Linked DNA regions of Homo sapiens: regions 1 and 2 are each linked to region 3. Evidence: fine-mapped expression QTL. A gene starts in region 3. Each other region holds a variant in brackets. All regions are shown on one strand. Distances are from middle to middle.

Region 1 (2,762 bases), 20 kb before region 3:
GAACTGGTCAACCTTCAGCCAGCCCTCTCCCCTTCCCAGATCACAGCCTCTGGGGAGGGGAAAGGGCTGGCTGAAGGTTGAGTTGATCATCAATGGCCAATTATTTAATCAATCATGGGCAAGTAATGAAGCCTCCATAAAAACACAAAAAACAGGGCTCAGGAGAGCTTCCAGATAGCTGAACACGTGGAGGTTCCTGGAGCATGGCATGCCTGGAGAGAGCATGGAAGCCCCTTCTCCTTTGGCCCTACACATCTCTTCCATCTGGCTGTTCATCTGTATCTTTTGTTAACATCTTTCATAATAAACAGGTAGAGATAAGTATTTCCCTGAGTTCTATAAGCGGCTCTAGCAAACTAATCAAACCCAAGGAGGGGGTTGTGGGAACCCTGGTTTATAGTCAGAGGTATAGGTGACAATGTATTACTTTTGATTGATATCCCAAATGGGGGGCAGTCTTGTGGGACTGAGCTCTCAAACTTGTAGGATCTGATGCTACCTCCAGATAGACATTATCAAAATTGAATCAAATTATAGGACATTCATCTGGTGTCCACTGTAGAAATGATCACTTGCTTGGTGTGTGAGGGACAGTCCCCATGTTTGGTCACAGAAGCGTTCTGTGTGGTGAGAGTATAGTAGGATAAAGGGAGTTTGTTTTTTCCCATATTTTTACAATGGGAGACTTATTAAAGAACCAACTCTAGGTATCAGTATGATCCTCATTGTGTTAAACATTAAAATCAAAACTGTATATATATTTAAATTTACATTAAAATTACCCGAAAAAGGCCGGGCATGGTGGCTCATGCCTGTAATCCCAGCATTTTGGGAGGACAAGGTGGGTGGATCATTTGAGGTCAGGAGTTCGAGATCAGCCTAGCCAACATGGTGAAACCCCATTTCTAGTAAACATAAAAATTAGCCGGGCGTGGTGGCAGGTGCCTATAATCCCAGCTACTGAGGAGGCTGAGGCAGGAGAACTGCTTGAACCCAGGAGGCAAAGGTTGCAGTTAGCCGAGATCGTGCCACTGCACTCCAGTCTGGGCGACAGAGCAAGACTCTGTCTCCAAAAAAAAAAAAAAGAGGGGGGAAAAAAAAAAAAGAAACTACCTGAAAACTACAAACTGAATTTTTGATAAAGGGCCAGTAGACCTTTTATGCAACAATCTGAGAAGGAAGATCAGGAAGAGCATGGTACAGTACACAAAACTATAATACACAGTATCTACTATAAAGCTACCAGGTTTTTTCATCATAAAATATCTAGACAGACATGTATATGTAATTCAATATGCAAAATATAAGTATCTCTAAAGTTAGGCTAAAGGCATACCAATTCTTTGATATCTTTTTCAAACAATGTGAATTATTTTGATTTTTTAAAGTTCCAATTCTGGCCGGGTGCTGTGGCTCAGGCCTGTAATTCCAGCACTTTGGGAGGCCGAGGTGGGTGGATCAGGAGTTC[G/A]AGACCAGCCTGGCCAACATGGGAAACCCCGTCTCTACTAAAAATACAAAAATTAGTTGGGGGTGGTGGTGGGCACCTGTAATCACAGCTATTCGGGAGGCCGAGGCAGGAGAATCACTTGAACCCAGGAGGCGGAGGTTGCAGTGAGCCAAGATCACGCCATTGCACTCTAGCCTGGGCCACAGAGTGAGACCCTGTCTCAAAAAAAAAAAAAAAAAAAGTTCCAATTCTGACTAAGGGTCCACAAAGCAACAGGCCACAACCCTGAATGGATAATCCTAACCACAGACCTAGGGTGGCCAGAGGCAGAAGGCCCAAATGGGGGTGATACCTTTTTATACTGCTGCACACATCAATAAAATAAATAATGTGGAAAAGAGAACAAAACAGAAAAGAGAAGCTTGCCTGTAATTGGCTCTACATCTATAACTAAGACACACAGCTCTTTGTTGAAGTTCCCAATCCAAATAAGTCCAAGTCACAGGACACAGAAATCAACATGGATCAACTTACCTGAACAAAGAAAATAAAGTGCTTAAAGGAGGTGTTGAGGTGGGCCTCCTCTTGCAGCTGCATCACAGAATCAAAGTGCTGGTGATAAATATGGGCATAAACCCTGAACAGACGCTTTAGAATAGTCTTTGCCACAGACATAAAGTTTTTGGGAAATGGGACACCTGCAATTAAATACACATATGAAACAATTATTTGGTTATCTAACAGTAGAAAGTTGTTTATTTGTGACAGGGTCTCACTTTGTCACTCAGGCAGTGGTGCAATCTCAGCTCACTGCAGCCTCGACCTCCTGGGCTCAACTGATCCTCCCACCTTGGCCCCCCAAATAACCTGCACTACACGCCACCATGCCCAGCTAATTTTTTGTATTTTTTGTAGAGATGGGGTTTTGCCATGTTGCCCAGGCTGGTCTTGAACTCCTGAGCTCAAGCAATCTGCCCGCCTCAACCTCTTAAAGTGCTAGGATTACAGGCATGCCCAGCCTAACAGCAGAAAGTTTACACACTGCCATGAGCACCTGCAACATATAAACACACACATTCATAAATACACACAAACCTACCTCTGTATATATTTTTTAAAGCCAAGGAAATGAAAACCCAAACCCCAATCCTCACAAAGTACCACACTTTTTTCTGACTGCCTTAGGCACAGGTATCAAATTATGTAAGATGCTGCTAAATCAAAGTTCAAAAATCCTGTAGTTTTAGTTTTTTGTTTTTTGTCCCCCCCCCCACCCCGGAGACTGAGCCTCACTCTGTCACCCAGGCTGGAGTTC
Region 2 (2,712 bases), 30 kb after region 3:
AGTGTGATGATACAAAACCCGTATGGTAGCCAAGTATGGTAGGCAACATAGCAGTGCTCATTAAATGCCTCAAAAATTTTTTTAACCTCAAAATTTCTTATAATAGGAATCAACAGTGAGACAATTATGAAACCAGCTTCAATTTCAGAGGAAGAATTGTTGAATTTAATCAATAAACTGAATAATGATGATAATGTAGATGGCCTCCTTGTTCAGTTGCCTCTTCCAGGTGAGTTTTGGACTCCATTTAACATGATTGCTGCTGCTTCTGCTCCTTTCCCTCTCCCTCCCTCTCTCTCTCCCTCCCCATCCCCCTCCTCCTCCCTCTCCTTTCCTTGTCTCACTCTGTCACCCAGGCTAGAGTGCAATGGTACAATCATAGCTCATTGCATGCTCAAGCTCCTGGGTTCAAGGGATCCTCCTGCCTTAGCCTCCCAAATAGCTAGGACTATAGGCATGTCCACCATGCCCAGCTAATTTTTACATTTTTCCTAGAAATGAAAGTCTGTCTGTGTTGCCTGGGCTGGTCTTGGACTCTGTGCTTCCCAAAGTGCTGGGATTACAGGCATGAACTACCATGCCCTACCTAAAATGGTTTCTGAGGGGTAAAAAGGCCTTGTTACTTTATACACCTGGTTCTTCATGTGGATTTGGCTTAAAGGCAAAATAAACTCAAAAGAGTGAATATTTTATTAGAAATGGGACAGACCAACTCAGAATACCAATTACGCCTTGATTTAGTATTGTGGTCTTGATACAAAGGACAGTGGAGGGAAGCAGCTGTGATAGACGATATTGGCTTTGCTATTGGTGTTTGGCTTTGCTTATGCGAGTTCCTTCCATGCAGATGAAGTACATCTCAGAGGCAAGCTGTAGAAGAATAGATTTCCTTGCGAAGCAGATAAGCTGGAGTCAGGCAGTGCTGACTATGCGGTGGTGATTTAAGGCAACTGTGCCAATTTCTTTTTCAGAGCATATTGATGAGAGAAGGATCTGCAATGCTGTTTCTCCAGACAAGGATGTTGATGGCTTTCATGTAATTAATGTAGGACGAATGTGTTTGGATCAGTATTCCATGTTACCGGCTACTCCATGGGGTGTGTGGGAAATAATCAAGCGAACTGGTAGGTATATCCCAGAATTGCATGTCTGTGTTAATATTATAAAAGTAGTACTGGCAAATGGTAAAAACTCATACAGTCCCAAAGAGTGGAAACCCTACTGCATATCCTCTAGTCTTACTCCCCAAAGTTTACCTCTCTTAACAGTTTTTTTTTTGTTTTTTGTTTTTTTTGAGACAGGGTCTTGCTCTGTCACCCAGGCTGGAGTGCAGTGGCGCGATCTTGGCTCACTGCAGCCTCTGCCTCCTGAGTTCAAGCGATTCTCATGCCTCAGCCTCCTGAGTAGCTGGGATTACAGGCACGTGCCACCATGCCCAGCTAATTTTTTTATTTCTAGTAGAGACAGGTTTCACCATATTGACCAAGCTGGTCTCGAACTAGGCCTCAGGTGATCCGCCCCCTCAGCCTCCCAGAGTGCTGGGATTATAGGCATGAGCCATCGTGCCTGCCCTTAACA[G/T]TTGCCTATGACAGTTTTTGCTTTTTAATCCAGAAGTCTCAGTGAAGGAAATTTTCTATTTTTCTTTTTCTTTTTTTTTGTTTTTGAGACGGAGTCTTGCTCTGTTGCCCAGGCTGGAGTGCAGTGGCGTGATCTCGACTCACTGCAAGCTCCACCTCCTGAGTTCATGCCATTCTCCTGCCTCAGCCTCCTGAGTAGCTGGGACTACAGGTGCCCACCACCATGCCTGGCTAACTTTTTTTTTTTCTCGTATTTTTAGTACAGACGGGGTTTCACCGTGTTAGCCAGGATGGTCTTGATCTCCTGACCTTGTGATCCACCTGCCTTGGCCTCCCAAAGTGCTGGGATTACAGGTGTGAGCCATCGCGCGTGGCCTCTATTTTTCTTTTTAATTTTTTCTTTAAGAGTCAGAGGTTTCATCATGCTGCCCAGGCTGGTCTCAAACTCCTGGCCTCAAGCAATTCTCCTACCTTAGCCTCCCTGGCCTCAAGCAATCCTCCCTCCTGCTGGGATTACAGGTGTGAGCCACCGCCCCAGCCCTCAGTGAAGGAAATTTAAGATTTGATAGTGGTGACAGTGCACATTCCTGTAACATTTTGTAGCCTGTAGTATGCTTTCTCCTGTTTTCTTTTAGCCCTTATTATGTGTAGCAAGTTACAGCTCCAGTTGACTGATGAGGCAAAATTGGGTTCATGTTCTAGGCCATCTGACTTTGTTTTCCTTTGGACTGGCACTACTTTTAATGTCAATACATATATTTTTATAGGCATTCCAACCCTAGGGAAGAATGTGGTTGTGGCTGGAAGGTCAAAAAACGTTGGAATGCCCATTGCAATGTTACTGCACACAGATGGGGCGCATGAACGTCCCGGAGGTAAGGAAATTGCTTTCAGGGAACACTGTCCTTTTTTCCCCATGTAAGAACTTTCAGAAGCCATCCTGTGCATGTTTGGAAGTATTAACTCTGTTATACTTTGTATTTGTTGAAATTTTGTTAACAGACAATTCAGGGAGTAACCTTTGTAGAGAAGCTGCACCCAGTGTCACCTGAGTTTCTTTATTATTCATTTATCATGTAACTAGCTTCAGAAATAAATTTAAGTTTTGAGTATAAGCATGGTTGTAGGCAATTAG
Region 3 (2,762 bases):
GTAATCGTATTTTAGAGACCATTCATTTACGAGAATAACCCAAAGGAAGGAAAATGAGACGCAGATAAACATATTCTGAGTAGTGCTATTTTATAATAGTAAATACTGGAAGGAATCCCAGTTTCTCACAATAAAGTGGGTAAACTCTGGTTATAAAAAATAAAAAAAAAACTATATAGTGTTTTTATATTGTATTTAATAAAAATGTCAAGCATGTGGATTACATCCATAACTAAAATTGGATAATTATTCAATCACAAAACACACATTTAAGCAATATACAAGGTAGAGAGAGACACCTGAGAATAAAAAATACTGTGCCAGAGCAATGCTTCTCAAACCTTAATGTGCATAAGAATCATCAGGGAATTTACAAGCTTTTTCATTTTAGCCTTGTTTGGTTGGGCTCAGGCATTATCTCTAAAATGAGATTCTAAGGTATGCCTATCAAGTTAATTGCTGTAGTGCACTAAAATGGCAATACTGTGTTTCTGCAATGGGACTATGAATTTGTTTTAACTTTCCAAATTATTTATAATACTGCAATGTACTATATAATAATGCTGTATGGTATATTACATAATGATTAAAAACACAGGATTCTACCGAGGACAAGAGAAGTTGGTTAAAATCAAAGCCAGTAAGTGGGCAGAATCAGAACTGGACAGAACGATCCGACTCCAAGGCCAGCATCTTAACTTCAAGCTTCTCAAACTGCGGCAACGCACATTCTCCTGGGGCGGCATTTAACACCGACAATAATGAAACTGGACCTATAACCGAGCAACGAGTTAAGTCGGCAAGGACGGTTTCTAGAAGCTCGAGACAAGAGAAACTGGGGGCTCGCGGCTCCGCCCCCAGATCGTCTCCCCGCCCTCGGGGGCGCTCGGGCGGAAAAGTTTGGAGGCGCGACGGCCCCGGGGCCTTTCTACTCCCCAGCCTTCACGCTCCGTTTCCTTTACTTCGACCTTCATCTCTGTCGGCCTCTCCCAACATCTCGGCCTCCCCCGCGGACCCGAACAGAGGCAAAACAAACGCCAGCTACCCCGCCCCCGCCTCGGCCCCCAGGCCGAGCCCTCGCCTCAGGTCCGGGGAGGCCTCCCCCACAACCTCGGCCCGCAGGCCCGGCGCCCGCGGCCCGACCCCACTCACAAGAGGAAGCTCATCTTCGGTCCTCAGAGGGGAGGCGAGGGGCCCCTGGCCCCCGCCTGGATCAGGATTCGGAGCTGGCTAGAGGGAGCGGACCGTCCTTAGCTCACGGGCAGCGGAAGCCGGGCCGCCGCCGCTCGGAGCCGGGTTTCTGGCCGCTGCGAGCCTTTGCAAACCTCGGCGCCCGCCTTGCCCGCCTACCCCACCTCGCAGACCCGAAATGCGGAACCAACAAAATCTCGCGAGCTAAGGTTTCGCTGCGCCGGGAGGGACTTGTCGCGCCCCCTTTCGCTCCGCCTCGTCCTAGAACTCGGCCAATCATCGCTCTCCAAGCCAGGACCTCCCTCCCCCGGAGGCGTGGCGAGGATGGCGGTCCTGCGGAAGGGGCAGTGGCTGGTCCTGCTCTTAGAGTATCTTGGTGCTGCTGGGTTTCGATCCCGCTCCCTAGGTTATGCAGGGACCTCTATAAGCGCTGCGTACTCCTGCAATTTTTAAAATTGTTAATTTAATTTTTACTTGAAATATATTCACATAGCATAAAATCTGTCCTTTAAACATGTACCCTCTAGTGGTCTTTTTCGGTTTTTTCTTTCTTTTTTTTTTTTTTTTCTGAGGTGTCTCGCTCTGTCGCCCAGACTGGAGTTCACAGTTCACTGCAGCCTGGACTTCCTGGGCTTAAGTGATCCTCTCGCCTCAGCCTCCCGAGTAGCTGAGACCACAGGTGCCTGCCACCACGCCCGGCTAATTTTCTCAAAGTTTTTGCAGAGACGAGCGTCTCACTGTGTTGCCCAAGCTGGTCTTGGACTCCTGAGCTCAAGGGATCCTCCTGGTTTGACCTCCCAAAATGCTGGGATCACAGGTGTGAGCCACTGCCTCCGGCTTTGTTTATGTTTTCAAAGTGTGCCAACCATCAGCACTAATTTTTTTTTTTTTTTTGACAGAGTCTCACTTTGTAACCCAGGCTGGAATGCAGTGGTGCAATCTCGGCCCGTTGCAACCTCTGCCTTCCAGATTCAAGTGATTCTCATGCCTCAGCCTCCCGAGTAGCTGGGATCACAGTCGTGCGCCACCACACCCGTCTAATTTTTGTATTTTTTTTTTTTTTTTTTTTTAGTAAAGACGGGGTTTCGCCATGTTGGCCAGGCTGGTCTCGGTCTTGAACTCCTGACCTCAAGTGGTCCACCCGCCTCGGCCTCCCAAAGCTGGGATTACAGGCGTGAGCCACCGCGCCCAGCCTAACCATAATTTTAGGCCATTTTCATCACCCCGAAAAGAAACCCCATACCTATTAGCAGTTACTCTTTATTACCCACCTCCCTCCTCCCAACCCCTGGCAACCACTACTCTACTTTCTATTTCCATGGATTTACCTAATCTGGACATTTCATATACACTGTGAATGGAAGCATACATTATGTGGTCTTTTGTGACTGACTTCTTTCACTTAGCATAATGTTTTAAAACGCACCCATATTGTAGCATGTATCAAAGCTTCATTACTGGCCAGGCACAGTTGTGGCTTACGCCTGTAATCCCAGCACTTTGGGAGTCTGAGGCTGGCGGATCACTTGAGCTCAGGAGTTCGAGACCAGCCTGGGCAACATGGTGAAACC

Direction of the effects. Positions count from the first base shown, and alleles are read on the strand shown. Sizes are in standard deviations (SD) of each study's normalised expression. Not every link is listed here.
In carriers of allele G in region 2, the expression in monocytes after LPS of the gene that starts at base 1,371 in region 3 tends to be higher than with T alone (large effect, 0.79 SD a copy in Quach 2016).

The links. PIP is the estimated chance that this variant, and not a neighbour inherited with it, causes the effect. A credible set is the group of variants that fine-mapping cannot tell apart.
Region 1: its variant is the best candidate, but not a certain one, in a credible set for the expression of MOB1A in monocytes (Quach 2016, PIP 0.82).
Region 2: its variant is the best candidate, but not a certain one, in a credible set for the expression of MOB1A in monocytes after LPS (Quach 2016, PIP 0.54).

The regions. Positions count from the first base shown.
Region 1 is chr2:74,157,110-74,159,871 of GRCh38, forward strand. It overlaps MOB1A (MOB kinase activator 1A), which reads right to left. Exons shown (of 6, transcript NM_018221.5): 5 at 1,982-2,145. Among named protein-coding and RNA genes, the nearest start is that of BOLA3-DT, 11 kb to the left of the region's middle. The variant G/A (reference allele first, on the strand shown) is at 1,469.
Region 2 is chr2:74,207,598-74,210,309 of GRCh38, forward strand. It overlaps MTHFD2 (methylenetetrahydrofolate dehydrogenase (NADP+ dependent) 2, methenyltetrahydrofolate cyclohydrolase), which reads left to right. Exons shown (of 8, transcript NM_006636.4): 3 at 107-229; 4 at 972-1,124; 5 at 2,345-2,452. Among named protein-coding and RNA genes, the nearest start is that of MTHFD2, 10 kb to the left of the region's middle. The variant G/T (reference allele first, on the strand shown) is at 1,579.
Region 3 is chr2:74,177,509-74,180,270 of GRCh38, forward strand. MOB1A (MOB kinase activator 1A) reads right to left here and starts at 1,371. Exons shown (of 6, transcript NM_018221.5): 1 at 1,153-1,371. The coding sequence starts at 1,166. RefSeq lists an enhancer at 396-1,079 and a silencer at 943-1,132.